7 linked regions of the Homo sapiens genome follow. The protein of the gene in region 4 purifies or fractionates together with the protein of the main gene of each other region. This does not show direct contact. Each region holds a gene or a part of one and is shown on either strand. Other genes may lie near its edges. The genes, in order: TXNDC5, POLD3, PNO1, NSUN2, COLGALT1, NT5DC2 and MAT2B.

Region 1 (3,906 bases), on a different chromosome or scaffold from region 4:
CTTAGCTGCTCTCTGACGGGTCTTAGGTGTTGAAATAGTATTTTTACCCCCGTTTGCTGACATAGTGAATAACAACTTAGTCCTGCCTATTTTAGTGCTGGTAGAAAATAAAAAAGAAAGCAATGACTTAGAACAAGATGTTTCATGAAAATGTTGGGCAAGCAGCAGCTTTATGAGATTTAAATGAAAGAAAAAGCTTGAAGAGCTGTGCTTGTTGGTAAATTAAGTTTATAAAATTAAGGACGGATTATAATCTTGACATCTTTGCAGTCTTACCTTTATTATATACCAACTACTCCTGTTTAAAATTCACTTCTTGCTCCCTGTTGATTTTAAAACCCTCTAAGCTTCAGCATGAGAGTAAATTCTAAGCTGGCATGTGAACTGGTCTGGGTCCCAGTCACCGACAGCCAGGCTAACCCCCCTCCCACCACCACCAAATGTCAAGCCAGGGCCCTGACTCAAGCTACCAGGTGCTGACTTTACTTGCTCGAGTTAAAATGTTGCTTCCTAAAAACCGGCATGTTTAACTGAGCTATTAATACAATAAATCTTGCCTCTAAAGTCTTTCCTTTACTCCTTTTAGCTCAGGTATGTTTTAGCATAGCTTTCAGGAACATTCTCTTCAAAAACTGCACCTTGCTGGCAGAGTTGCTACAGAATGTGGATTTTGAAAAGAATATTTGTAACGTACAAAGTGTCCAGTAGCCCCATTAGCAAGAAGGTTCATGAAGAAACTGACTGGGAAGTTGATCTGCTTTTATTCTCAGGTTGATTGTACACAGCACTATGAACTCTGCTCCGGAAACCAGGTTCGTGGCTATCCCACTCTTCTCTGGTTCCGAGATGGGAAAAAGGTACGTCTGCACTTCTTAGTACTGAGAATTCTTCATCTCTTAACCCCATCAGGCTGAGCTACTGAGTGGTTTAATGGGCACAGTGAATTGCCAATCTTGATTGTTAGGGCACTGGTTTGGAGAAATGTGTATAATGAAACAAACGTCTTTCTCTTAATTGATAAGATTTGGGTTGTGGAGATGAACCTTGAAACATTTCAGTGGCCCAGGTTATCACTAGAATAACCCACATCTTACAGTCACAGGGTAACTGTGCTCTGGTTGTAAACACAAACCTTCAGGCCTTTGAACAGAGCTAAGGCTTGCACTTGGTCCGGTTCTGCCTGCCTCCCTCCCTCCTTCCCTGGCCGATGGTCAGCAGCTCAGAGTTCCCCATCAGCACAACGGCTTGCTGGCAGGCCTCTGCCCCAGACTTCTGTGATGTGTAACCCCGTGGAGGGAAGAGGGGCCTGTACAGTTCTCTCACCAAAGCCGAGGCATTCAGTTATCCTCTCTACATTCCCGTCTAAATATGAACATGCAGACTTTGCACCACCGCTAAGACATCTGGGAGCTCTGACCCGGGCAAGCAGGGGTTGCAGGAAGGCTTAAGTGATTCAGAACACCTCAGTGGACTCACTCAGCCGCGTGCCCGTGTCTTGGCCAGGTGGATCAGTACAAGGGAAAGCGGGATTTGGAGTCACTGAGGGAGTACGTGGAGTCGCAGCTGCAGCGCACAGAGACTGGAGCGACGGAGACCGTCACGCCCTCAGAGGCCCCGGTGCTGGCAGCTGAGCCCGAGGCTGACAAGGTGGGTGCCTGCTGGAGTCGGGATCCCCATAAGTGGCCCGTGGCCCCCGGCCCCCCACCTCCCCACCCTCAGAGGCCTCCTCAAATGCTTTGGACAAAATGACAGTTTGGGGACACAGTCATCTGATGGTTGGCTCCAGTTGCGTTTTCAACACGTATTTTTCATCGACTTTCACATGCTTTCAGGGGCGAATGCAAACAAAAGCTTTCCTTTTGAAAACATGAAATGGATGTGAGACAAATCCCAAGACAATATTTGGTGTCAAAAATCTCTAGAGAATCCTTCCTTTCCGCTTCATTCATTTTAAAGAATGACTCTGCTGGGCATGTTTCTGCTATGAAATCTCGACTGCTGGCCCCGGGGCCCTGATTCTATTCCTGACCTTGCTCCGGGCATTTTCCTTTACCCGTTGTAAAGGCCCCTAGAAGACCTGTAGCCAAGAGGGCATCCGCAGCGATCAGGCCAGTGACTGTAGCTGTAACCTGCCTAGGCAGTCCTGATGCACTGAGGGGCTTCCTTCCTTCACTCAGGTAGCAGGAGGTTTCAGATTCATTTGTTCTGCTTTATGAAGCCCTTGTTATGTCACAGGCACTGTTCTAGGCCACCAGGGAATAAAAATAAGACCGGTTTCCTGCCTCTGAAGCATACAGGTCTCTGAGGCAAATGGTGAGAAGACACACAAGCCAATGGCAGGGGGCTGGGGCAGAAATGTGTGCAGGGCTTGGCTGCTAGAGAGAAGTGGGGGCAAATGGGCAAGAAGTGTCCCTAAGGAGCTGATTGACGGGATCTGTGCTGGACAGATAGGCTGGGCAGGGCTGCCACTGAGGGGCTGCACCAGGAGAGGCACAACCCGAGAATCAGCCGGCATTTCTGCAGGGCCAGAGCTGGGGCTGGGGGAACACAGTGGGAGACAGGTCAGGGTGTGGTGTAGGATCCCTGAGAGTGAGAGAGGAGCTGGAGTTGAGAGTCTGTGGGCAGCTGGCCAAGGATTAGGAACTGTATCCCATATTGACAGGGAGCCCATGGAGGCTCTGTGCAGATTGGAGTTGTAGGAAAATGACCGGCATGCACGTGTGCTGGAGGTGGGAAGCTGCTCTATTAGGCCTTTAAAGATGATGCGTTCCCTCATGCTGCAGCCGTGACTGTGCGATGGCGAGGAGGAGAAAGCCAGCATAAGGAGTCCAGCCGCTGTGCAGCGCGGAGAGGGAGGGAGGGTCCGAGGCGAGTCTGATTCCCGCATATCTGGTGGAGGATGGTACCCAGCACAGGGGCGGGGCCAGAGCTCGAGGAAAGGGATGAGCTTGGTTTTCAAGGTGTTGATCTTCAAGGCTTTCGGCTGTGTAGGTGGCAGTGTCCAGTGGCAGTTCCAACCATGAGCCTGGGGCTGCGGCAGGAGGTCTGCACTGGACGAGAGTGCCCGTGTCATCCTCTTCAGGTAGAAGTCATGCCTGAAGGCCAGGAGTTTGGATTTGGAAAAACCAGTGGGGCCACCAACCCCTCCTCCCTGGTGGGGCCACACCAGGCCTCCTCACCCCTACAACCCTGTCCCTAGTTGGGCTCTTGTAGGTCGGGGATGGCCTGAGTGTTGTTTAAAAGTTGACGTTTTGGTTGAAGAAGTAAACAGCTGATTTTGTAGTTGTCAGGACCACTTATGTTAGAGGAGTGTATGTGTCATGGTGGTTACAAAGGTCATCCCAAATTGAGTATAATTATATACCACGGATGTTTTCATCGCAGCACCATTTCTATTTATAATGCAGTTTTCCACCATGAAGTGGGTCTTTTCAGTGCGTGTGGCGTCATGTTTCTGGACATAAAGATGGTAGTGTTCCACAGTGGCCCCCTTGGCCTCCGTCACTGACATGTTACTCGATGCCAGACTCAAATGGAGCAGCCCTGGTACACTTAGCCACGTGATAAATCATCCCATTCCTGCTCTCAGGAGAGAATCGCAGATCCATTTTTGGAGAAACACATAGACGTCATTCTGTAAAGAACTGTCAAGGGAGAATGGCTTTAAAGCAGACTACCATGTAGCACCTTTCCCTTAAATTCTCCAGCCAGAGCTTCCATCAGCGTTTTTCACATTGACTTAGAACAGGCTGCTTTCCATTTTTATGTTCAATGTAAAACAGGTATCATTGCCTTTGCTATTGTAACTAGGTTCTTTCTGTTGCATAGAGAGGATGTCACAAAGGGTGCTAGGAGAATAGGGTGGCCAGTGAGAAAAGCGGCTGAGGATGAGACTTCAGTGGGTAT
Region 2 (3,906 bases), on a different chromosome or scaffold from region 4:
TTGAAAAATTATTTGCAAAAATTTTCTCCCATTCTGTGGATTGTCTTTGTACTTTCTTGATGGTGTGCTTTGAAGCACAGACATTTTTTGTTGTTGTTGTTGTTTGAGACAGGATGTCACTCTGTTGCCCAAGCTGGAGTGCAGTGGTGTGATCTCAGCCCACTGCAGCCTTGACTTCCCTGGGCTCAGGTGATTTTCCCACCTCAGCCTCCCGAGTAGCCGGGACTACAGGTGCGTGCCACCACACTCAGCTAATTTTTAAATTTTTTGTAGAGATGGAGTCCCGCCATGTTTCCCATGCTGGTCCCAGGCTGGTCTTGAATTCCCAGGCTCAAGCCCCTGCCTTGGCCTCCCAAAGTGCTGGGATTACAGACATAAGCCACCATGCCTGGCCCATGGAAGTTTTTATTGCTGATGAAGTCCAATTTATTTATTTTTCCTTTTGTTGCTTATGCTTTTTTAAGTTTAAATTTTAAAATGATTAAATTTTTTTTAATCTTATTTTTTTTTTTTTTTTAGTAGAGATGAGATCTTGCTATGTTGCCCAGGCTGGTCTCAAACTCCTGACCTCAAGTGATCCTCCCACCTTGGCCTCCCAAAATGCTGGGATTACAGATACAAGCCACTGTGCCCGGCCTAAGAAGATTTTTTTTTTTCTTTTTTTTTTTTTTGAGGCAGAAGCCTTGCTCTGTCGCCCAGGCTGGAGTCCAACGGCGTGATCTCGGCTCACTGCAACCTCCGCCTCCCTGGTTCAAGCTATTCTACTGCCTCAACCTCCGAGGTAGCTGGGACTACAGGCATGTGCCACCATACCCGGCTAATTTTATTGTATTTTTAGTAGAGTTGGGGTTTCACCATGCTGGCCAGGCTGGTCTCGAACTCCTGACCTCAAGTGATCTGCCCGCCTCGGCCTTCTAAAGTGCTGGGATTACAGATGTGAGCCATCGTGCCAAGCCAAGATTTTTTAAATTGAGAAATAAAGTTGTATGTATTTATTGTGTACAACATTATGTTTTGAAGTATATATACACTGTGGAGTAGTTAAATCTAGCTAATAAATGTATTACATCACACAGTTATTTTGGTGGTGAAAACATTTAATGTCTACCATCTTTTCATTTTTCAAGAATATATCATCACTAACTGTAGTCACCATGCTATACAGTAGAGCTCTTGAACTTATTCCTGTCTAACTGTAATTATGTATCCTTTAGACCCACATCTCCCCATTCCCCCTCCCCTAACCACTTCAGCCTATGGAAAGAAAATTCTGCTTTCCACTTCCGTGAGATCACCTTTTACAGATTCCACAAATGAGTGAGATCATGTAGTATTTGTCTGTGTCTGGCTTATTTCAGTTAACATAGTCTCTTCCAGGTTCATCCATTTTGTTGCAAATGATAGGATTTTATTCATTTTTATGGCTGAATAGTATTCCATTGTGTATATACACTATATTTCCTTTATCCATTAATGGACATTTATTGATTCCATATCTTGGCTGTTGTAAATAGTGCTGCAATAAACATGTGAGTGCAAATATCTCTGACATACTGATTTCATTTCCTTTGGATGTATATCCGTAGTGGGACTGCTGGATCATACAGTAGCTCTATTTTTGATATTTTGAGGAACCTCCATACCGTTTTACATAATGGCTGTATTAATTTACATTCCCACCAACAATGTATAAGCATTCTGTTTTCTCCATACCCTTGTTGTGTTTTCTTTTTGATGTGTTGCTTGTGCTTCTGACATAATATCTAAGAAGGCTTTGCCTAACCCAGGGTTATGAAGATTTACTCCTGTGCTTTTTTCTAAGATTTTTTAGTTTTTGCACTTATATTTAATTCTGTAATCCACTTAGAGTTTAAAAAAATCATGGTTATCACTATGTTTAAGTTTTCTACAGATCGTGTGCTTGTTAGCATCATTATTATTATTGTTTTGAGACAGGGTTTCACCCTGTTGCCCAGATGGAAATGCAGTGGCGCAATTTTGGCTCACTGCAACTTCAGCCTCCCAGGCTCAAGTGATTCTCCCTCCTCAGCCTCCCGACTAGCTGGAACTACAGGCGCATGCCACCACACTTGGTTACTTTTTGTATTTTTTGTAGAGACGGGGTTTTGCTGTGTTGTGCAGGCTGGTCTCGAACTCCCAGGCTGAAGCCATCCTCCTGCCTTGTCCTCCAAAGTGCTGGGATTGCAGGCATAAGCCACTGCACCTGGCCATGTACTTGTTAACATTAGAAATGCTTCAGTCGGGTGGCTGTGGTGGCTCAGTTGTATTAGTCCCAACACTTGAGGAGGCTGAGGTAGGAGGATTGCTTGAGCCCAGGAGTTCAAGACAAGCCTGGGCAACATAGTGAGACCCACATCTTTATAAAAAGTTTTTTTAAAACATGAGCCTGGTGTGGTGGCATGCACCTGCAGTCTTAGCTACTCAGAAGGCTGAGGCAGGAGAATTGTCTGAGCCCGGGAGTTCAAGGCTGCAGTGAGCTATGATCACACCTGGGTGACAGAGCAAGAACCTATCTCTAAAAGAGAAAGAGAGGAGAGAGAAAAAAGGGAGGAAAGAAAGAAAAAGAAAAAAATGCTTTAGTTCCTACAGTAAGACTATACTAAAGCTTTCAGATTAGGTGTTAGTTCAAGCTAATTTTTAAATGAATCACTGAAATGTATAAATATTGACTATATCTTCTAGGAATCACTTGGAGTTGATTTTTTGTGTATGGTGTAAGGAAAGGGTCCAGCATCATTTTTTTGCACATGGGTATACGGTTATCCCAGCATTTTATAATTCATATTATTGTCTTGGCATTTTCTTGCTAATTATATGTCTTTCCCCACTAGAATATAAACTCTATGAAGGCAGGAAACTTGTCAGGTTCATCACTGTTCTGATTACTATTGCTGTGTCAGAAATCACCCCAAAATGTAGTGCCTGGAAACATCATTTTATTATGCGCATAGATTCTTTTGCTTTGGAATTTGGATAGGGCACAGTGGGAATGGCTTATGTCTGTTCCATGATGTCTGGCATCCCCGCTGGAAAGTCTCAATAACTGGAACCTGGTCATCTCTAGGCATCTTTATGCACATGTCTGGCTGTTGATTCTGGCCATCTGTTGGGCCTTTAGCTGGGGCAGTGGACTAGAGTGCTTGCATGTGGTCTATCTGTATGGCCTGGGCTTTCTCACAGCCTGGTGTCTCCAGGTAGTCGGACTTCTTACATAGAAGCTCAGGGCTCCAAAAGCTTGTGTTCCAGCACAATGTAGAGCCAATTGCCTTTTCTGACTAGCCTCAGAAGTCAAGCAGTGAATAACTGGTCATACCAGATTCAAGAAGTGGGCTCTACTTCTCAATGAGAGAATGTAGAAGAGCATATGGAATGGAAGATGCTGTCTCAGCCATCTTTGGAAAATATAACATGCCACAATTATTCTGTCTTCAGTGTCAGGCACATAATGAATGCCAATACATACTGAATGAATACCAAGCACTATGGTTTATGTTTGTTTTGAGATAGAGTCTCACTGTATCACCCAGGCTGGAGTGCAGTAGTTCAAACATGGCTTCCTTTAGCCATGACCTCCTAGGCTTAAGGGATACTCCCACCTCAGTCTCCTGAGAGTAGCTGGGACCACAGGTACATGCCACCATGCTAGCTGATTTTTTTATTTCGTAGAGTTGGGATCTTGCTGTGTTGACCAGGCTGGTCTTGAACGTCTGGACTCAAGCAGTCCTCCTGCCTCAGCCTCCCAAAGTGCTGAGATTATAGGCATGAGCCACCATGCTCGGCCTCACTATAGTATTTTCACAAACATTTCTCTCAAGTAATTTTTTTTTTTTTTTTTGACGGAGTCTCGCTCTGTTGCCTAGGCCGGAGTGCAGTGGCGGAACTCAG
Region 3 (3,906 bases), on a different chromosome or scaffold from region 4:
GTGGCTCACATCTGTAATCCCAGCACTTTGGAAGGCTGAGGCAGGTGGATGGCGTGATCTCAGGAGTCTGAGACTAGCCTGGGCAACATAGTGAAACCCCTTCTCTACAAAAAAATACAAAAATTAGCCGGGTGTGGCGGCCCACACCTGTAGTCCCAGCTACTTGGGAGGCCGAAGTGGGAGGATCACCTGAGCCCAGAAGGTTGAAGCTGCAGGGAACCACGATCGTGCCACTGTACTCAACCCTGGGCGACAGAGTGAGACTCTAACAAAATAAAAATAAAAATACCACATATAGTCTGGGCGCAGTGGATCATGCCCATAATCCCAGCACTTTGGGAGGCCAAGGTGGGAGGAAGGAATGCTTGAGCCCTGAAGTTCAAGACCAGCCTGGGCAACATAGGGATCTCCATCTCTACAAAAAATATAAAAATTAGGTGTGATTGTGCACACCTGTAGCCCTAGCTGCTCAGGAGGCTCAGGTGGGAGGATTGCTTGAACCAAGGATGTCAAGACCACAGTGAACCATGATGGCACCACTGCACTCTAGCCTGGGTGACAGAGTGAAACCTTGTATCCAAAAAATAAAAAATTAATTAATTTAAAATCCATATACAGATGCTCCTCACCGTATGGTGGGGTTACGTCCAGATAAACCTGTTGTAAATTAATGATCTCATAAGTCAGAAGTTCATTTGATACTTCATTTGATATCATAGGATACTTCTCTTTGAAAACTGAAGAGCATTCCGAGTGTGTACCACTTTGGCGCAATTATAAAGTCAAAAAAAAATCTTCGGTTAAATCATCAAGTCATGGACTGGCTGAGTAGCCCTGAAAGCTTTCATGAATTTAGAAATCCATGGCCCGGCACGGTGGCTCACACCTGTAATCCCAGCACTTTGGGAGGCCGAGGCGGGCGGATCACGAGGTCAGGAGATCGAGACCATCCCGGCTAAAACGGTGAAACCCTGTCTCTACTAAAAATACAAAAAATTAGCCGGGCGTAGTGGCGGGCGCCTGTAGTCCCAGCTACTTGGGAGGCTGAGGCAGGAGAATGGCGTGAACCCGGGAGGCGGAGCTTGCAGTGAGCCGAGATCCCGCCACTGCACTCCAGCCTGGGCGACAGAGCGAGACTCCGTCTCAAAAAAAAAAAAAAAACAACAAAAAAAAAAAAACTAGCTGGGTGTGGTGGCACATGCCTGTTATCCCAGTTACTTGGGAGACTGAGGCAGGAGAATTGCTTGAACCTGGGAGGCGGAGACTGCAGTGAGTCAAGATTGCACCACTGCATTCCAGCCTGGGCGACAGAGTGAGACTCCATCTCAAAAAAAAAAAAAAAAAAAACGGCTGGGCATGGTGCCTCACACCTGTAATTTCAGCACTTTGGGAGGCTAAGGCGGGTGGATCACCTGAGGTTAGGAATTCGAAACCAGCCTGGGCGACAGTGAGACTCTGTCTCAAAAAAAAAAAGAATTTAGAAATCTAAAACTAACTGATTTGCCAATGAAATTATATAGTCTGTCATTAAGTTTATTACTGGTAAATTTATAAGTATATTTGTAAGTGTTAACCTAAAATTTACTAGTTAAACCAACGTTTTAGAAGTTTATTGTGGCATAATTTACATACAATAAAATTCTATTGTTTTAAGTATCCCGTTCAATGAGTTTTTGGCAAATGTATATTGTAGTCCCATGACACTCATACAGTTCTCTTACCCTGAAAGTTCCCTCGTGCATCTTTATGGTCAGTTGCCTGCCCCCACCCTTTTCTGGGACAACCATTGCTCTTGTTTCTGTCACTCTTATTTTGCATTTTCTAGAAATTCATATAAATGGAAATACACAGTATGTAGGCTTTGGTGTATGACTTCTCTTAATTAGCATGTTATTTTGGATTTCTCCATTTTGTTGGGTGTATCAGTAGTTCCTTTTTATTGGCAAGTACTATTTCATTGCACAGGTATACTGTTGACCCTTGAATATTGCAGGGATTAGGGATGCTGAACCCCTAACATGGTTGAAAATCCATGTATGTATGACTTGACTCTCCCAAAACTTAACTACTCCTGCTTTTGGCTGGAAGCTATACCAATAACAAACAGTTGATAAACACATATTTTGTATGTTATATGTATTATATACTGTACTCTTTCATAAAGTAAGCTAGAGAAAAAATGTTATTAAGAAAATTATAAGGAAGAGAAAATCTATCTACTCTTCATTAAGTGGAAGTGGGTTATCATAAAGGTCTTCATGGTGAATAAGCTAAGGAAGACGAGGAAGAGGGGTTAATCTTGCTGTCTCATGGGTGGCAGAGGAGGAAGATGTGGAAGGCGAGGCAGGAGAGGCAAGCATACTCTGGAACTTTACAGAAATACATTGTAATTTCTGACTTTTTTGCCCTTTCACTTCTCTAAAAATGTTTCTGTAGGGTACCAATCCTCTTCCACAGTTTTTAGTTTCAGTGCCCACGTCATAAAAGGGTCTATGTCATAAAAGACGTCAAAAGCATCTTGAATAATCAGAAACCTTCTGCCAAATTGTCTAATGTCACCTTGTTTTCTGACACTGCTGCTTCTACATCATCTTCCTCATCACCCGGCACTGCTTCAGAAGCACTCACCTCCATCAAGTCGTCTTCTGTTAATTCCTCTGGCATAGTGTCTGTTAGCTCTTGATTTCTCCGTGATCCATATCTTGAAACCCTTCACCCCTCACTTTTGGCCATATCCACAGTCTCTTTCATGATTTCTTGTTTGGCTCTGTCGTAAATCCTGTACTGTCATGCAAAACCTCTGGACATGGTTTTCTCCAGCAGGAATTTATAGCTGCAGGCATGAGGCTTTCACAGCTTTTTCCATAATAATGACAGTGTCTTCAATGGCATGGTCCTTCCAGACTTTTATGATGTTCTTTCCATCGAGTTCTCTTCCATAGCATTGACACTATTTTCCATAGAGTAGTGTGTGTAATGAACCTTAAAGGTCTTTATGACTACCTGTTCTGGAGGCTGAATTAGAGAGTGGGTGCAAGGAGACCACTTTGTTGCCTTTCGGTATTGAACTCATGGGGTTCTTGGGTGGCTGGGACATTGCTCAACATCAAAAGAGCTTTAAAAGGCATTCCTTACTGGCAAGATACTTCCTGACTTCAGGGAAAAAGCATCAATGGAATCAATCCAGAAAAAGAGCTCTCCTTGTGCAAGCCTTCTTGTACATCCAGAAGACAGGCCACTGGTGTTTACCTTTTCCCTTCAAGGATCGGGGTTAGCAGCTTTATAGATAACGGCAGTCCTGATCATAAACCTGACTGCATTTGCACAAAACAGTAAAGATAGCCTATCCTTTCCTGCATTAAATCCTGGTGTTTGCTTCTCTTCTTTACTAATAATTGCCCTTTGTGACATTTTTTTCCAGAACAGGACGTTTTTCATCTGCACAAAAAACCTGTTCAGGCAGATATTATTTCTCCTCAGTGATTTTCTTAATGGCATCTGGGAACTTGTCTGCTGCCCTTTGGTGAGCAGAAGCTGCTTCTCCTGTTACCCTGACATTTTTAAAGCCACCTCTTTCTAACATTATCGAAGCATCCTTTGCTGGCGTTAAGTTCTCCAGCTTTAGATCCTTCATTTTCCTTTTGCTGTAAGTTGTCATATAATGACTTAATTTTTTTCTCCATCATATTAGACTCTATAGATGTGTCTTTCTTAGAACAATCCTGCACCCACATAAAAGCTGCATTTCCAATTTGAGATTGTCAAGAAAAGAATCACAAGATCTATAAATTTGGAGAGGAAACTTTATTTCTTAGAAAGGGTTGCAGTCTGCAGGGTGGCCATTCTGACAGGCTGGAAAGTATAGCCTTCAGCAGAGACCAAAAGCAGGCACTCTGAAGGAGGAAA
Region 4 (3,906 bases):
TACTATCTGTCAGTTCCTCAGTATAAAACTGTATGAGGTGACCTCACACCCATTAGGATGGCTACTAACAACAAAGAGCCCCAGATAATAAGTGTCCCTGAATGTGTAGAGAAATTGGAACCCTTGTGCACTGGGGGTAGAAATACAAAATGACGCAGCCACTGTGAAAAAAAGCATGGTGGGGTCCCCCCAAAATTAAACACAGAATTACTATATGATCATATGATCCAGCCATTCAACTTCTGAGTGTATATCCAAAGAATCGTAACCAGGATCTTGGAGAGGTATTTGTATACCATGCTCACAGCAGCATGGCTCACAACAGCCAAAAAGTGGAAGAAACCCAGATGTCCATCAACAGATGGATGGGTAAACAAAATGCGGTTTATATAAACAACAGAATAGTGTTCAGCCTTAATAAGCAATGCAATTTTGACACAGACAACAACACAAGTGAGCCTCAAGGACGCTGCAGTAAGTTAAATAAGCCAGTCACGAAAAGACAAATACAGTATGATTCCGCTTCTGTGAGGTCTAGAGTAGTCAAAGTCATACAGACAAAAAATAGAACGGTGGTGTGAGGGGCAGGGAAGAGAGAGATGGGAGCTACTGTTTAAAGGAGTTCAGAGTTTCAGTTTTGCAAGGTGAAGATTTCTGGAGATGGATGGTGGTGGTGATTAACAATGGGAATATACCTAACGGGACTGAACTGCAGGCTCAAAAATGATTAAGATGGTAAACCTCACGTTATGTGTATTGTACCATACACATATGAAAAGCCCCCTATGCTGTTAATAAAAGATCCATCAAGCGTGCTTACCTTCACTTTTTTCCAGTAAAGATGCTATGACTGCTTCATCCTCAATAGGGTTTAGTGAACACGTGGAATACACCATCCTTCCACCTTCAGCCAGCTGTTCAGCCCCGCGTGTTGCAATCCGCAGCTGTAAGCTAAGGGGAGATATCAGATGACTGCAAGGCCAAATGTATCCATGAAGTGCACATATTAGAAGCACCTCCTTATGTCACATATTCATTACAAGCTTTTATAACACAATTATACTTAAAAAAAACCTTCCAGGGATCTAAATGAAGTTAGAGTAAACTTATATAAAGTGTTTCATGTTAATAAAAAAAATGTATTATATAAATATTCTTACTGCTCTGTTAACCTTTCCCAATATGTCAACCAGCAGAGTATAAAGTTCAGTAACAACAGAATTCAATGTATTAGATGAAATTTCACTATTTAAAAAACCTCCATACTTCCTAAATATGTGGTTTTTCTATGAAAAATTGGTATCATACATTCCAGTCCTAACTCTTGTCTCTGTGTCACAAAACAGTAGACAGTATTTTATGGAGACGAGGCCTCCTGCTATAGTTGGTTGTGGTGGATGCTAATTAGTATTCTGTGGCTCAGGCACAGTACAGTCCTGCATGCAAGACCATGGCATTTGTCATGTCAAATGAAAAAAAGAATACACTGCTCTACAGACAGCATGATCAAAAGTATTTGGAAAAAGTACTTAAAAAATCCCTGTAAACAGAAAAACAATACAACACACCAAACATTAACAGACGTGATCATCGTGTTATGAGATTTCTCTTTAAGAATTTTCCAATTGTTCTTTAATGAATAGTTCCCCATCATAAAAAGCCAACCGAAAAATATTTCTAAGAGATCAAAATGTCTCTTAGCAAAACGATGATACAAAAGAACAAAAACAGAGAGAAAAGATTAGTAATGCATACATCAAGAGGTAAACGGTCATTTCATGGAAAAATACATATCTGAAGTGTTGCAAGAAATTTTTATAGAAGGCATTTTTAATAAACGTGTTATCTGAAATGTATACAATTTGCAGTTATTGCTCTTGAAAGGTTTTCAAATAACTTCTGATAAAACAGTTGAAGGTGGCCATTGACCATCCTCTGATGCTTACAGCTCTCTAATTAAAGATCGGATGCTCACTTGCATAACAATAAATCTCTGCTGATCTACTTGTCACACAGTGTTAGCAGTGATGAAGTTTTACTTACCCATGTAGCTGCAAGCTATTTAAGGTGGTCCACTTTTTCCAAACATCAATGTTTTTTCTCATAGTGCCGTCTCCACTGGAAAAAAGATATTTATGAGTGCAAAGCTCCCTACAGGTGGATGACTGCACTTTAACAGATATGTCACATACAAGCTAAGTTACAAAACAAGTGTTACAAATATCAGTTAGGAAACAATCTCCATTTTCACCAACTGCAATCTGCTTTCAGCTTTTGTTTTAGGGATTTTCTAATGTATTATAGTTTTAAATTATACTTCAATTTTCAAGCAGAAAATAATGGATTTGAACAGTAAACTCCATTCACTAAGGAGATATTAATGTGCTTCCATTTGGAAAAAACACTAGCAAGACTAATTTGCAGACCTAGGACACAGAACCTAAAATACTATTGAAAATCTCAGTTAATCAACAATGACACTTTAATCAGAATTACATGAATAATGACTAATAAGAAATTTTCCACAGTTAAGCTAATATATTAGCTAAATTTTTCCTACAATCACAGGTAAACATTTCTGACTTTCTACTTTTATTTAATGGAAGTTATTTTCATGTTTTTCAGAACCTAAAATACTATTGAAAAACTCAGTTAATCAACAATGGCATTTTAATCAGAATTATATGAATAATGACTAATAAATTTTCCATAGTAATTTCAATTAAGCTAATATAATAGCTAAATTTTTCTTACTAATAGCTAAATTTTTCTTACAATCACCGTTAAATTTCTGACTTTCTACTTTTATTTAATGGAAGTTATTTTCATGTTTTTGTTAATGGAAGCTCTTTCCATGTATATTTTATAGTAAAGACTGGATTTGTTACTTTCTGTGTCTAATTTTATCTGCCCTGTTTTCCCAGAAGGTAACGCCTGTTTTTGTTGGCTTTCTCTGTAAATGCTGATTTTCCTTGATGGTCTAGCCGCGTGTACACGAGGGACTAGGTCTGCAGGATGGAATTATCCCATGAGATGTAATCCCCACTTTGCAATGGCATTCCTGGCTGTACACTAGTTGTTTGCATGGTAGAAATCCCACCACAATTTCAGAAATTTCCCCAGCTTGCAACCTCTTGCTCATAAGGTCACTGCGTTCTCAGATCTCAGAATATGATACAAGGAACGAGTTATCTTTCTGATCAAAAAACAGGGGTAGGAAAACATGAGACCCCAAGGAATACTGAAAAATTGCAACCTAGAGGAAAAAAAAACTTTAGTTCATGATGTATTTTAAATTTTACTTTAAAGAGGGCTTTTTCCAGATTATTTTAACACTCAGCTATATTCAGAGCCACCAGCTGCAAGTTTCATACTGAGTTTTGCCATGAGCAGTAACTCTGCCACTTACTGAAACAAAATGGCATTCTTCCATAATGTGGTATCGTATCTAAAGCTTGCATTCTGTGCTAACAAGTTTTGTGGCAGCTTTTGAATTCTGGTCTTGACAAACTTATGTCATTCAGAAGTCATTATCACCTGGGATCATCATCCGTGCACCTCCTATGGGAACGGAACAGATGATGTCTTTAGTTTTGTTTCTTTCCTTTTAAAAAAACTTGTTACTCAGTTATACCATGAGTATTATTTTATATCTAAACTCTAAATATCTAAAATGTTGATGTATTATCTCAAGAAAGGTATAAAAACACAAGCAAAATGAATTTCTTAAGGGCTTGAACTCCGAAATTTCTTTCATTCAACTAAATAACATAAAATCCAATGTGATTACGTATTATTTTATGACAAAGTTTTTTATATACTGTACTCACTGGAAGAACTAATACAAAATAGTTGGGGTGCACAAATTGTTCCAAGCAATAACATCCTAAAACACACCACAATAAG
Region 5 (3,906 bases), on a different chromosome or scaffold from region 4:
TTTTAAGAGATGGGCTGGATGTGGTGGCTCACACCTATAATCCCAGCACTTTGGGAGGCCGAGGCAGCTGGATCACCTGAGGTCAGGACTTTAGAGACCAGCCTGGCCAACATGGCGAAACCCCGTCTCTACTAAAATTACAAAAATTAGCCAGGCATGATGGCGGGGGCCTGTAATCCCAGCTACCCAGGAGGCTGAGGCAGAAGAATTGCTTGAACCCAGGAGGAGGAGGCTGCAGTGAGCCGAGATTGTGCCACTGCACTCCAACCTGGGCAACAGAGACTCTGTCTCAAAAAACAAGAAAAAAGAAAATCAGGAGAATATAGAAAAGTATGAAGGCTGAAATAACATTTGGGGTTGATCATAGAAAACTGTGTAATGGGTTCAATGTATATTATTTAGGGGATGGACGCCCCAAAATCTCTGACTTCACCACTTCACAATCTATGCATGTAACAGAATTACACTTGTGCTCCATAAGTTTATACAAATTAAAAAATAATAGTAATATTCAACCTATAAGTCTGTTTTTTTTTTTTTTTTTTTTTTTTTGAGACAGAGTCTCATACTGTGGCCCAGGTTGGAGTGCAGTGGCGTGATCTTGGCTCGAGAAAAAAATAAAAAGACTCAACTGTTCCCTTCCCCATGAGACAATGTCCCCACAGGAGGAGGAAGTGCAAGTCAGGCCTCAGCAATTCAATGTGGCCACCACCCCCCAGCCCCTGACCCCTTCCTCCTGCTTCTTGGAAGTGACCCAAAGGTTTGGCCATTACATATGATGGTGATAAAAACAGACGTGACACGGCCAGGCACGGTGGCCCATGCCTGTAATCCCAGCACTTTGGGAGGCCGAGGCAGGAAGATCACTTGAGCCCAGGGGTTGGAGACCAGCCTGGGCAACATAGCAAGACCCCGTCTCTACAAAAATATTTTTTATTTGTTATTTTTTAAAAATATTTATTTATGTATTTATTTATGAGATGGAGTCTCACTGTGTCGCCCAGTGACTGGAGTGCAGTGGCACGATCTCGGCTCACTGCAACCTCTGCCTCCTAGGTTCAAGAAATCCTCCTGCCTCAGCCTCCCAGGTAGCCGGGATTACAGGCACCTGCCACCACGCCCGGCTAATTTTTGTATTTTTAGTAGAGATGGAGTCTCACCATATTGACCAGGCTGGTCTCGACCTCCTGACCTCAAGTGATCCACCCGCCTTGGCCTCCTAAAGTGCTGGGATTATAGGCATGAGCCACCATGCCTGGCTTCCACAAAAATAAAAATAAAAAATTAGCCGGGCGTGGTGGTGGGTGCCTGTGGTCCCAGCTACTCAGGAGGCTGTGGCACGGGAATCGCTTGAACCCAGGAGGCAGAGGTTGCAGTGAGCCGATATTGCGGCACTTCACTCCAGCCTGGGCACCAGAGTGAGTCTCTGTCTCAAAAAAATAAAAAAATAAAAATGGACTTGACCCAAGTGTCCAAACACAGGGGACAACTGGGGACAGAAAAGCCCATTCATTCCTAGTGCTGAGGATCAAATGAATCCCAGCTCCTCCTCCACTGACCAACCATATCACCTCAAGCAACTCATCTCCCCTCTCTAAGCCTCAGTTTACCCTTCTGCAAAACAACATTAAGGATGGTCCTGGCATCCTGCTGCTCCGCCTTCCCTGGGGATACCCAGACCTGCCTGTGATCCATATCCGGCCGGCTGAGAAACTTACCAGGATGTAATCAGCCCACATGTCTCGAGCTGATTTCAGGGCTGCCTGGCGCAACTTCATGACATGCTCGTAGCGTGAGTCAGACCAGTGTTTCGGGCCTTCCTCGTCCGGGTAGGACCTATGGGGAGGCAGCTGTGATGTGGACATCACAAGGCACTATCAAAGCCCAGCGAGGGCCTGAGCTGCCTTCGGGGTACTCAGAGAGAGCTTCCTGGAGGAGGGGACGTGTAAGCTGATCTGAGGGATGGGAAAAAGTAAACGACGAGGAAAGAGAAGTGGGGAGAATGTTCCTGGCCGGAGGTACAGCCTGTGCAAAGGCCTGGAGGGAAGAAAGCCCGAGGCACACTGGAGGGAAGGAAGGAAGGAAGCTCAGTGGGGTCCAGTGCAGTGGCCCACGCCTGCGATCCCAGCACTTTGGGAGGCAGAGGTGGGAGGATCGCTTGAGGCCAGCACTTTGAGACCAGCCTGGGCAACACAGTGAGACCCTATCTCTACAAAAAATACAAAAACATTAGCTAGGCATGGTTACATGTGCCTGTAGTCCCAGCTACTCAGGAGGCTGAGGCGGGAGGATGGCTTGAGCCCAGGAGTTAAAGGCTGCAGTAAGCTGTGTTCACTCCACTGCACTCCAGCCTGGGTGAGGGAGTGAGACCCTGTCTCAAAAAAAAAACAAAAACCCAGAAAGGAACTGGGTGGGGGCAGGGAGTCCATGCTGCCCAGGGCTTTAGGGAGTAGATAAACAGCAAAGCCAGTGCTGGGACCAAGACTGAGTCAGTGAGCCAGGGAACAAAGCAGTGGGCGTCCCCAGAAGAAAAAGGGAGTGAAAGAATTCTAGGTACAGGGAACGGCTTGGGCAAAGGTCTGAGAAGAGGATTATGGCCTATTTGTAAAGCTGAGGGAGGCTCAGAGTAGCTTAATGCTGCCTGGCTGGGCTGGAGGCAGGGACTGAGGGCCTGTAATTGTTCTGGGGCAATGGGGAGCCATAGAGGGTGTGTGAGCAGAGGCAAAGCCCAATCAGACTAGGAGCAGGGGAAAGATGCTCACCTGGGCTCCTCTGCTGGCCGCCACTCCACGGAATGGTACAAACTCTTCACGGCCACCAGCCACTCCCGCAGCACAGTTGACGTGTTATCCATGTTGTGGTCCGTAGCCACCCTGCAGGGAGAGGGGACAGGCAGCGTACTTGGGGAGACTGAGGCAGGACCAGGCAGCAGTGAGGCAAGTCAAGGACCACCATCCCCAACTGGCCTCCCACCAGCTATGTATCCCTGGACAGGACACTTCTCCCTTTCCTTTGTTTTTTTTTGAGACAGAGTCTCGCTCTGTTGCCCAGGCTGGAGTGCAGTGGCGCGATCTCGGCTCACTGCAAGCTCCGCCTCCCGGGTTCACGCCTTCTCCTGTCTCAGCCTCCCAAGTAGCTGGGACTACAGGCGCCCGCCACCACACCCGGCTAATTTTTTTGTATTTTTAGTAGAGACGGGGTTTCACCATGTTGGCCAGGCTGGTCTCGATCTCCTGACCTCGTGATCCGCCCACCTTGGCCTCCCAAAGTGCTGGACTTAACAAGCGTGAGCCACCGCGCCCGGCCCATTTCTCCCTTTCCATGTCAGTTTCCTCATCTGTAACATGGGGGTGGGAACAGGACCCAGTTTACTGGGAAGTGGAAGGATTAAACAAGCTGATTTTGGAAAGACCCATTAGTGATTGGCTGTTTTATTACTGAGCATCTAAGATCTTGCAAACCACATTCACTAACAAATATGTGTCACTTAATTTTTTTTTTCTTTTGAGACAGAGTCTTGCTCTGTCACCCAGGCTAGAGTGCAGTGGCACAATCTTGGTTCACTGCAATCTCCGCCTACCAGGTCCAAGCAATTCTCCTGCCTCAGCCTCCCGAGTAGCTGGGATTACAGGTGCCCACCACCATGCCCAGCTAATTTTTGCATTTTTAGTAGAGATGGGGTTTCGCCATGTTGGCCAGGCTGCTCTCGAACTCCTGACCTCAGGTGATCCACCTGCCTCAGCCTCCCAAAGTGCTGGGATGACAGGAATGAGCCACCGCACACGGCAATTTTTGTAATGTATAGATCAGGCCAGGCACGGTGGCTCACGCCTGTCATCCCAGCACTTTGAGAGGCCGAGGCGGGTGTATCACCTGAGGTCAGGAGTTTGAGACCAGCCTGGCCAA
Region 6 (3,892 bases), on a different chromosome or scaffold from region 4:
TTCAATGGCATCATCCATGCTCTGGCCAGCCCCCTCCTGGCACCCCCACAGCCCGTGAGTTGAGGAAGGGGGAGGCAGAGCCCTTCCTGGCACCCCCACAACCTGTGAGCCCGGGGAAGGTGGTGGGACAGCTCCCGCCAGGTCAACACTCTCCCTGTTTGTTTGTAGCAGGCAGTGCTGGCGCCTGAAGCCCCACCTGTGGCGGCAGGCGTGGGGGCTGTGCTTGCCGCTGGAGCACTGCTTGGCTTGGTGGCCGGAGCTCTCTACCTCCGTGCCCGAGGCAAGCCCATGGGCTTTGGCTTCTCTGCCTTCCAGGTAGGGCTGGGTTGGGGCTGCCATGGCGGGTCCTTGGATCTCGCTTGAGGCGCCTCGCCACTCACCCCTCTGCTGCTCCCAGGCGGAAGATGATGCTGATGACGACTTCTCACCGTGGCAAGAAGGGACCAACCCCACCCTGGTCTCTGTCCCCAACCCTGTCTTTGGCAGCGACACCTTTTGTGAACCCTTCGATGTAAGCATGGAAGTGAAGAAGTGTGGCAGATGTGGGATGGGCCCAGGCCCTGGTCACACCCTCCACCACCAACCCTGCTCTTCTAGGACTCACTGCTGGAGGAGGACTTCCCTGACACCCAGAGGATCCTCACAGTCAAGTGACGAGGCTGGGGCTGAAAGCAGAAGCATGCACAGGGAGGAGACCACTTTTATTGCTTGTCTGGGTGGATGGGGCAGGAGGGGCTGAGGGCCTGTCCCAGACAATAAAGGTGCCCTCAGCGGATGTGGGCCATGTCACCAAGGAAGGGGGTCTTCATGCAGCCGGTGCAGAGCTGGTCCATCCAGAGGGGTGCCTCGTGCTGCAGCGGCGTACGGCGTGGGTAGAAGGTGAAGTCCACGCGGTAGTTGAGCAGGCAGCTGAGGGAGGCCATGTAGAGGTCAGAGAAGCGCACGAGGCGCCTTGAGAAGTAGGTGGGGTTGTGGAAGGTGCGGAAGATGCTGCCGAACTGCGCATTGAACAGGGCCTTGGTGATGCACCTGGCGAGGGAGACACGATGCGCTCAAGGGGTGGGCCTGGGGTGGTGGCTTGGCTGGGACTCCTGCCCTGGCCCCACCTGCTCACCTCAGCTCCTGCCGCTCTTTCATCCAGGCAGCCAGCACCTGCCTCGACTCCGCGTCCTGATAGGTCTGGGGACACAAAGTGTGCATTGGGTGTGTGCACCCAGGAGGCTACCGCCCTGGCCCTCCCACAGCCACCCCGGCCCACACCTGCATGCGCTCCAGCAGCCCCGTGAGCGCCTGCTGCCACGTCAGCGAGTGCATGTACTGCTCCGTGTTGATGATGCGGATCTCACGCTCCAGCTCGGGGATGATGGCGCCTGTGCGCCAGCCGTGCCGCAGCATGAGATCCTGGTGGGTGGGGCGGCAGAACTGGGCTCAGCGCCAGTTGCTGGGGGCGGGGGGGGGGGGGTTTCCTGGCCCTCCCCCACTGCAGCCCAGCCCTGCCTCCCTCACCGCCAGATCACTATAGAGGTGGTCCCCGAAGTAGAGCACGCGGGGGCCACGCCATTCCGTCAAGCGTAAGAAGTCAAACAGGTTTCCCTAGGGAGAGGAGGGGAATGCTGCTGAGCCAAGTGTGCCTTGTCCTCCACCAGTCCTCCCTCCCGAATCCCCAGAGGCAGCCCAAATCCAGCCGGATGCTGGCTGCCCTTTCCCATGGCCTTGCTGCTCCCTCCCTGGGCCCTGGTTCTTGTCACTTTCCCCTCCTACTTGGGAAGGGGATTCTGCCTGCTGCAGGAAGGTGCCCTACAGGCCTGGCATGGTGCCCATGCCTCGAGGGCCTTCTCCCTGTGGTCTCACACGTACCCCAGGTTAGGGATTAGATCCCTGTTTGTAAGGTAGAAACTGCAGGGAAGGCTCTGCAGCCCTGAAGTCCTTGCTGGCCTCCCCTGCCTCAGTGCAGAGGGACCTGGCAGACCAATGGCAGACCTCACCGGGGCCACCAGCATCTTGGAGCCAGAGAAAGATGGAGACACTCAGCCAGGCCCACATGTAACTGGGGAAGCTCACAGGGTGGCAGAAACTGAGCGGCCCAGAGCAGGAATCACCAGACTAGTGCTCAGGCAGCAGCCACCAGGGTAGGAGTCCACACCCCAAAAGCGAGAATAATTGACACCCAGCAAGCACAGTTCTTGAAGCAGTCTGTGCATTCCAAGCCTCAGAAGTGGAAGCGCTGGGGGAAACAGGTGGTGTGGGAGAAGCCAATTGCTGAACTAAGTTCAAGTGGAGGGGCAGAGGCCCAGGCAGGCCCCAGACCAAGAGAAAGAGTCTCAAAGGGCAGGAGACTGACAGACTCCTAGTGACTGACAGGCAGGATCCAACACACAGTGGAAAGCAGCTTCAGAATACTGGGCATAAAGAACTGCCTGAAAGCTGCCAGGGAAGAAAGTCATGTGTTTCTCACAAAGGTGTATGACCCTCTTTAGCTGAGGCTGGATGCCAAGGCAGGGGAGAGCAGCGCCCTCAGAGCTGAAGGGACGCACCTGGGCCCGAGGGCTGTGGAGAGTTTGGGTGCGGAAGGGTGGGAGGCAGAGAAGTGGGCAGGGCTGAGAGGGTGGGGGTGTTTCCTGCAGGCCAGGCTGGGCATTGGCCACCTCCACATTGCTCCCCTGGCCAGCTGCTGGCTTCCCCCTCCTCCAGCCCCAAGGCCTTTAGAACCCCTAGCCTGAAGAAGCCCAGCTCAGCCAGGATTTCCGCATTCCAGCCAGGGCTAAACCTTAATCACTGCCTGCTCATAGACACCTAATCCCACCTCAACACCAGTCCCTCTCATTTTCCTAGCCAGGTAGGAAGGAGGAGTTTCTCTAGATCACCCAGTGAGCTGCCCCCAACCAGACTTGTTCTGGCTGCAGCAGAGTGCTCAACCCCAAGAAATGACACCATTCATCAGGCATTTCACGATCTCTGACCATTCTTGTTTTTTGAAGACAGGGTCTTGCATTGTTGCCCAGGCTAAAGTGCAGTGGTGTGATCACAGCTCACCACAGCCTCGAACTCCTGGGCTCAAGTGATCCTCCCACCTCAGCCTCTGGAGTAGCTGGGACCACAGGTGCATGCTACCATGCCCCGCTAATTTTTTCTATTTTTAGTAGAGATGGGGTTTCGCCATGTTGGCCAGGCTGGTCTCAAACTCCTGAGCTCAACAAACTATCCTGCAGCCTCAGCCTCCCAAACTGCTGGGATTATAGGCATGAGCCACGGTGCCTGGCGCACTGGCCATTCTGAGAGCTTTATACCACAGCTTCAGTAGAGAGTATTACACCTCTTTTGCAGACAAGGGAAGCAAGGCACAGAGGTCAGGCAACCAGGCCAGGCTCCCTCTGCTGAGTAGTGGAGTTAGGAATTCAAAGCCAGGCTGCTTGACCCAGAGGTCAAGCTCTCGAGGCCACCCAGACCTGCTCCCTGCCAGCCATTGCCTGTGTGAGGCTGCTCAGGGCCAAGGAGCTGTGCTGCTTCTTCAGAGGCTGCCTCTGCACAGCCTGGGGCCCTAGCTAGGCCCCATGCCCCCACCACATGCTGCTCTCCCCAGATGGCCCTTACCTGCCGATAGATCTTGCCCTTTTCCAAGCGGGTGATCCGGTCCCACTGAAGTGAGCCCTTCTCATCGAGTTTTCTGAAAGGCCTGGGGTGCAGGTAAAGGGCATGACTTCCAGTCTGTGGCTGGGCCACGGGCCGGGCAACCCCCATCCCTCCTCCGTAAAGGCCCACCTGCTCAAGTGGACCCATGCCAGCAAGGGGGTGTTCTCACCCCAAGCACATTGGGCAGTGGGCAAGGGCCAGGTTGGCCTCCTGCTTCAGTCCCCTCATTGGGGTGGGGCCTCTATTCCCCTTCCCTGGCCCT
Region 7 (4,642 bases), about 160 Mb from region 4:
CGAGGAGGGTGGACTGCTTGAGGGCAGGAGTTTGAGACCAGCCTAGCCAACATGACAAAACCTCATTTCTACTAAAAATACAAAACTCAGCTGGGCGTGGTGGCGGGTGCCTGTAATCCCAGCTACTCGAGTGGCTGAGGGAGGAGAATTGCTTGAACCCAGGAGGCGGAGGTTGCAGTGAGCTGAGAATGCACCACTGTACCCCAGCCTATGCGACAGAGCGAGACCTTGTCTAAAAAAAAAAAAAAAAAACTTTATGATAATCTACTTCCACTTAATGAATAGTAAATATATTTTCCCTTCCTTGAGATTTTCTTAATAATATTTTCTTTTCTCTAGGCTACTTTAAGAATACAGTATGTAATACACAGAAGATAGAAATATGTTAAATGACTATGTTTATCAGTAAGGCTTCTGGTCAACAGCAGGTTTTTACTAATTAAGTATTTGGGGAGTCCAGAGTTATAGTGGATTTTAGACTGTGCAAGGTTGATACCCCAAACCCACACCGTTCAAGGGTCAACTGTATAATGTAACAAGATTATATAGCTATTAATTTTTAGTTAAAAACAAATCCGTTCCCACAAATAGATACAGTAACTGTAACATTCTAGGATGGGGTGGTAAGTTAACATTCTGGATCAAGTGTTAATTTTATTGTGTTTTATTTCAATACATATTAAACTATATTCTTTTGTATGTATCACATGTTACATCAGAAGAATGTAATTTTTAAAAATTAAAGCAACAAAAGAACAATTAGTTTAGAAGTTTGGTCCTTACATTTAAAAAAAGAAGTAAATACAAGAAAACTAAGCATTACATGCCAGCAGTACATATTTATTATTATTCATGAATGGTGAAAAGACTTACAAGGCCCATTATTATGAGTATAACCACACATATGAAATATCACTTAGCGGCAACATGGGATGAAAAGGACAGTTATATATTTATATTAAAAAAATACACGTTTGCATTCAATGTTTGCCTAGAAAAAAAATACATGTACACACGCTCTTTCAAGTGCTCCCCATAAACTGCTATAAAAGCAGGAGGCATCAAGCTGTAGAAGTTCCAATATACATAACATGTTGAAATATCTCAAGCATAAAAACTGTACGTAACTTGCAAAAATAAAGTTCCTTTCTTCAAACATTTTGATCTGAGCTCAGGCAAAGCAAATAATGAACACCAATGATTTTTATACTATTTCACACAATTTAAAATAATCAACATGAAAAGGTCAACAGCTTCAAAAATCCTGAAAATATGGAGGTTACGAGAATGAACAATTTCATCTGAAAAGTCTACAGCAGATCTGCTTCATCCTGACTCTCAAATATTTAAGGATCATAATTTACTATACTCAAACTCCAAGTTTAGCCAGGACAAACAAAATGATAAAAAGAAAAATTACTGCAAACAGGGCATGACTGCCCTTTAGTTTCTTTAGACAATTTCACTAGTGCAAGAGCATCATTTACCTGAAAGATCCTAAGAGTCACAATTAAAGTACTCATACAAAACTATTTCCTTTGTTCTTTAAAAAGTGCCACATACTATACTTTTCATTTAAAAAAAAAAAAGAACCCAACACAAATAAACTAATGAAAGACCGTTTGTCTCCATCTCTTGTCAATGAGGAAAGGCCAAAGTGATTCTTTGATTCCAATTCGAAATGGTGTTCGTTGGCCAATGCCCAAGGTCTCCAATTTGGAGCAGTCAAGCTGAGCATTTCTCGGACGTTGTGCTCCTAGGACAGGGCTGTCAGTAATCTTTAAAGAAAGATAAACACAAAAAAATCAAAAGTAAGTGAAAGGCTATATTTTGAGGGCTTTGTTCCCCCTGACCTTTTTTTAAATATGTATATATTTTTAAACAGAGATGAGATCTCCCTCCATTGCCCAGGCTAGTCTCAAATTCCTGGGCTCAAGGGATCCTCCTGCGTCAGCCTCCCAAAGTGTTGGGATTACAGGCATGAGCCATTGTGCCTGGCCATTTTGAGGTTTTATATTTGCTACTTATTTTTGCTCTTAGTGTAAGAAATCTGATTTGATCATCCCTGGAAAAATAAACCAAATGCCTGTCATGATCAAGACAATAATACATTTTCTACAAACTTCAATACTCATGATCTTCTCTACAGATGATAATTTAGAGAAAAGTAGCACTATGAACAGCCAGCATACAAGCAAAGTTCACTTTGATTAGTACTGAGAAATGAAGTTACCCAACACAGCAATAATATATACCATAGCAATGGATCTAAAGGTTTTTACAGCCATGTACTTACAGGTCTTAAGTGACTGCTGGGGAGGTTGAAGGCATCTGCAATTGCACATGCCATTTCATACTTAGTCATCTGTTCATTGCCAGACCAGTGAAAGGTTCCCTTAATTGATGGATCCTAAGAACGATGACACAATAAATTCAATAGTTTCAACTTTTTGAGCTGAGTAGAATAGGTTTGACCAAAAAGCTTACTTAAAATAAGGTCCAGGAACTAAAAGGCAACCCTCTTTTTCTGGAAAGGTCTCCACAAGATATCTAAAATCAAATTCCTACTAATACTCTTAGCAAAACACTTAAAAGAGCAATTTCTAGAATTTAAACCTTAAGAATTTTTAAAATCAAAAAAAGGCTCCAATTTTACTTAATTAGTGGGAATATAAAAAAGCATTACAAATTTTTATGAAAACAGTACAATTTAATGAGTATTTTTAATTATCCCAAGCTACAACAAAAACTTAATAGAACCATTTTTCAAGTTGAGCTAAACTTTCTTAAATATTGTCATGTTATATATTACAAAATATAATTCTCATATATTAAAAAACTGTGGTCATCCTATTAATATTCTAAACTAAATCAGTCTCATCTTTCTTTGTATGGATATTATATTTAATACCAACTTTTTCAAATGTGCTGGGATTACAGGTGTGAGCCATCACGCCCAGCCCCCAAAGAGTATCTTCTTAAAAGACCTTAGATGATTATTTTGAAGTTTCCTAACACTTTGCAATAAAAGAAATGATGGGATCTATAGTACATAAGAAATAAATTCAAACAGAAGAGCATAATATTTTTATTCTTCATGAATACAGTGTATATGTAAACTACTTTTGTTTGGTCTCCTAGTTTTAAAAAAGCACTTTTGGCTTTCACTCAGTAACACTCCAAGTACAGCTGTGAAAGTTCAAGCATGGAAAAGACAAAGCGGACCTTCGCTAAGACAGGACTCAGGAATCCTTCTTACCAGCATTCTCTTCTCTGCTAGCTGCCGGCACACAGTGGCCACATCTTTGACATGTGTGGGGAACCTCTGCTGCCAGTGATCCATGTTTGCTGACTTGTTGCTGAACTGCACTTTATCAAACATAACAGTCACAGCACTTTCTTCGAGCTTTTCAACTTCCCCATACAGAATAGGAATCCTCAAAACAGCAGCTCCTAGAGAAGAATAAAAGCAAATAATTTAAAGCTGACTGATTCTTAAATTTTGATGTAAGATACAAGGGTGTGGATTTAAATAATATCAAAGTAGAAACCTTGCCTTTTAATTAAAATATACCAAAATGACACAGCTCACTTGTGACAACGCAATGTAAAAATATTCAAGGCCAGGCACAGTGACTCATGCCTATAATGCTAGCACTTTGGGAGGCCAAGGCAGAAGGATCACTTGAAGCCAGGAGTTCAAGATCAGCCCGGGCATCATAGCAAAACTCCGTCTCTACAAAAAATTAAAATGAAAATTAGCTGGGCATGGTGGCACATGCCTGTAGTCCCAGCTACTTGGGAGGCTGAGTAAGGCAAAAGGATCTCTTGAGCCTGAAGTTCAAGGTTGCAATGAGCTATGACTGCACCACTGTACTCCAGCCTGGGCAACAGAGTGAGACCCTGCCTCAAAAATAAAATTAAAAACAGTCAAAGGCTGAGTGCGGTGGGGCTCATGACTGTAATTCCAGCACTTGGGAGTCCAAGGCAGGAGGACTACTTGAGCCCAGGAGTTCGAGACCAGCGTGGACAACACAGTGAGACCTCGTCTCTACAAAATGTAAAAAAATTAGCCGTTCGTGGTGGGAGGATTGCTTAAGCCAAGGAGGTCAAGGCTATAGTGAGCTGTGTTCACCCTACTGCACTCCAGCCCAGGCGACTGAGACCCTGTCTCAAAAAAAAAAAAAAAAAAAAAAAAAAGAAAAAGGCAAAACCACATTTGTTAAGTATCTTCTGTCATTTGGACTAGTTTTTTTTATATATATAAATCCTACATTAATATGATCATTAAAAATAAAACTTATCATGACAACTGAATGCAATGAATAGTCTTTGACTGGATGCTAGATTAAAAAATAAAAGCAATAAAGGACATTTTTGGCATAAATGAGAAAATTCCTAAATAGATTTGTATTTGATTACAGTACCATATTAATGTTAAGTTTCCAAATGTATGATAACTGCACTGTAATTATGTGAAGAACATTCTTCTTGTTAGAAGATAAAAGAAAGGTAAAGTATTTGGAGATGAAATTCAACTAATTATCAATGGGTCTGGCAAAAGCAAACATATAAAACAAATGTGACAAAACATCAACAATTTGTGAATCTATGTGAAGGGTATATGAGTGTTCACATTAGT

What was found.
Region 1: the proteins of NSUN2 (region 4) and TXNDC5 fractionate together in Homo sapiens (co-fractionation; one large-scale study listed by BioGRID). This does not show direct contact.
Region 2: the proteins of NSUN2 (region 4) and POLD3 purify together in Homo sapiens (tandem affinity purification; one large-scale study listed by IntAct). This does not show direct contact.
Region 3: the proteins of NSUN2 (region 4) and PNO1 fractionate together in Homo sapiens (co-fractionation; one large-scale study listed by BioGRID). This does not show direct contact.
Region 5: the proteins of NSUN2 (region 4) and COLGALT1 fractionate together in Homo sapiens (co-fractionation; one large-scale study listed by BioGRID). This does not show direct contact.
Region 6: the proteins of NSUN2 (region 4) and NT5DC2 fractionate together in Homo sapiens (co-fractionation; one large-scale study listed by BioGRID). This does not show direct contact.
Region 7: the proteins of NSUN2 (region 4) and MAT2B fractionate together in Homo sapiens (co-fractionation; one large-scale study listed by BioGRID). This does not show direct contact.

The regions. Positions count from the first base shown.
Region 1 is NC_000006.12:7,886,446-7,890,351, reverse strand, and holds part of TXNDC5 (thioredoxin domain-containing protein 5 isoform 1 precursor), read left to right. Parts: intron 1-770; coding exon 771-857; intron 858-1,503; coding exon 1,504-1,647; intron 1,648-3,906. UniProt on the Homo sapiens protein: Protein disulfide isomerase of the endoplasmic reticulum lumen involved in the formation of disulfide bonds in proteins. Can reduce insulin disulfide bonds.
Region 2 is NC_000011.10:74,595,530-74,599,435, forward strand, and holds part of POLD3 (DNA polymerase delta subunit 3), read left to right. Parts: intron 1-3,906. UniProt on the Homo sapiens protein: Accessory component of both the DNA polymerase delta complex and the DNA polymerase zeta complex.
Region 3 is NC_000002.12:68,164,219-68,168,124, forward strand, and holds part of PNO1 (RNA-binding protein PNO1), read left to right. Parts: intron 1-719; coding exon of another isoform or gene 720-741; exon of another isoform or gene 742-1,656; intron 1,657-3,906. UniProt on the Homo sapiens protein: Part of the small subunit (SSU) processome, first precursor of the small eukaryotic ribosomal subunit.
Region 4 is NC_000005.10:6,615,907-6,619,812, forward strand, and holds part of NSUN2 (RNA cytosine C(5)-methyltransferase NSUN2), read right to left. Parts: intron 2,119-3,906; coding exon 2,044-2,118; intron 952-2,043; coding exon 821-951; intron 1-820. UniProt on the Homo sapiens protein: RNA cytosine C(5)-methyltransferase that methylates cytosine to 5-methylcytosine (m5C) in various RNAs, such as tRNAs, mRNAs and some long non-coding RNAs (lncRNAs).
Region 5 is NC_000019.10:17,558,278-17,562,183, reverse strand, and holds part of COLGALT1 (procollagen galactosyltransferase 1 precursor), read right to left. Parts: intron 2,874-3,906; coding exon 2,763-2,873; intron 1,837-2,762; coding exon 1,719-1,836; intron 1-1,718. UniProt on the Homo sapiens protein: Beta-galactosyltransferase that transfers beta-galactose to hydroxylysine residues of type I collagen. By acting on collagen glycosylation, facilitates the formation of collagen triple helix. Also involved in the biosynthesis of collagen type IV.
Region 6 is NC_000003.12:52,523,703-52,527,594, forward strand, and holds the end of NT5DC2 (5'-nucleotidase domain-containing protein 2), read right to left. Parts: intron 3,674-3,892; coding exon 3,592-3,673; intron 1,594-3,591; coding exon 1,507-1,593; intron 1,402-1,506; coding exon 1,261-1,401; intron 1,180-1,260; coding exon 1,115-1,179; intron 1,030-1,114; coding exon 768-1,029; 3' UTR 685-767; downstream 1-684. Other genes in the region: STAB1 (stabilin-1), read left to right, coding at 1-54, 169-315, 398-511, 598-654. UniProt on the Homo sapiens protein: Promotes dephosphorylation of tyrosine 3-monooxygenase TH which decreases TH catalytic activity and leads to reduced synthesis of catecholamines including dopamine, noradrenaline and adrenaline.
Region 7 is NC_000005.10:163,515,329-163,519,970, reverse strand, and holds the end of MAT2B (methionine adenosyltransferase 2 subunit beta), read right to left. Parts: intron 3,454-4,642; coding exon 3,260-3,453; intron 2,411-3,259; coding exon 2,297-2,410; intron 1,779-2,296; coding exon 1,608-1,778; 3' UTR 617-1,607; downstream 1-616.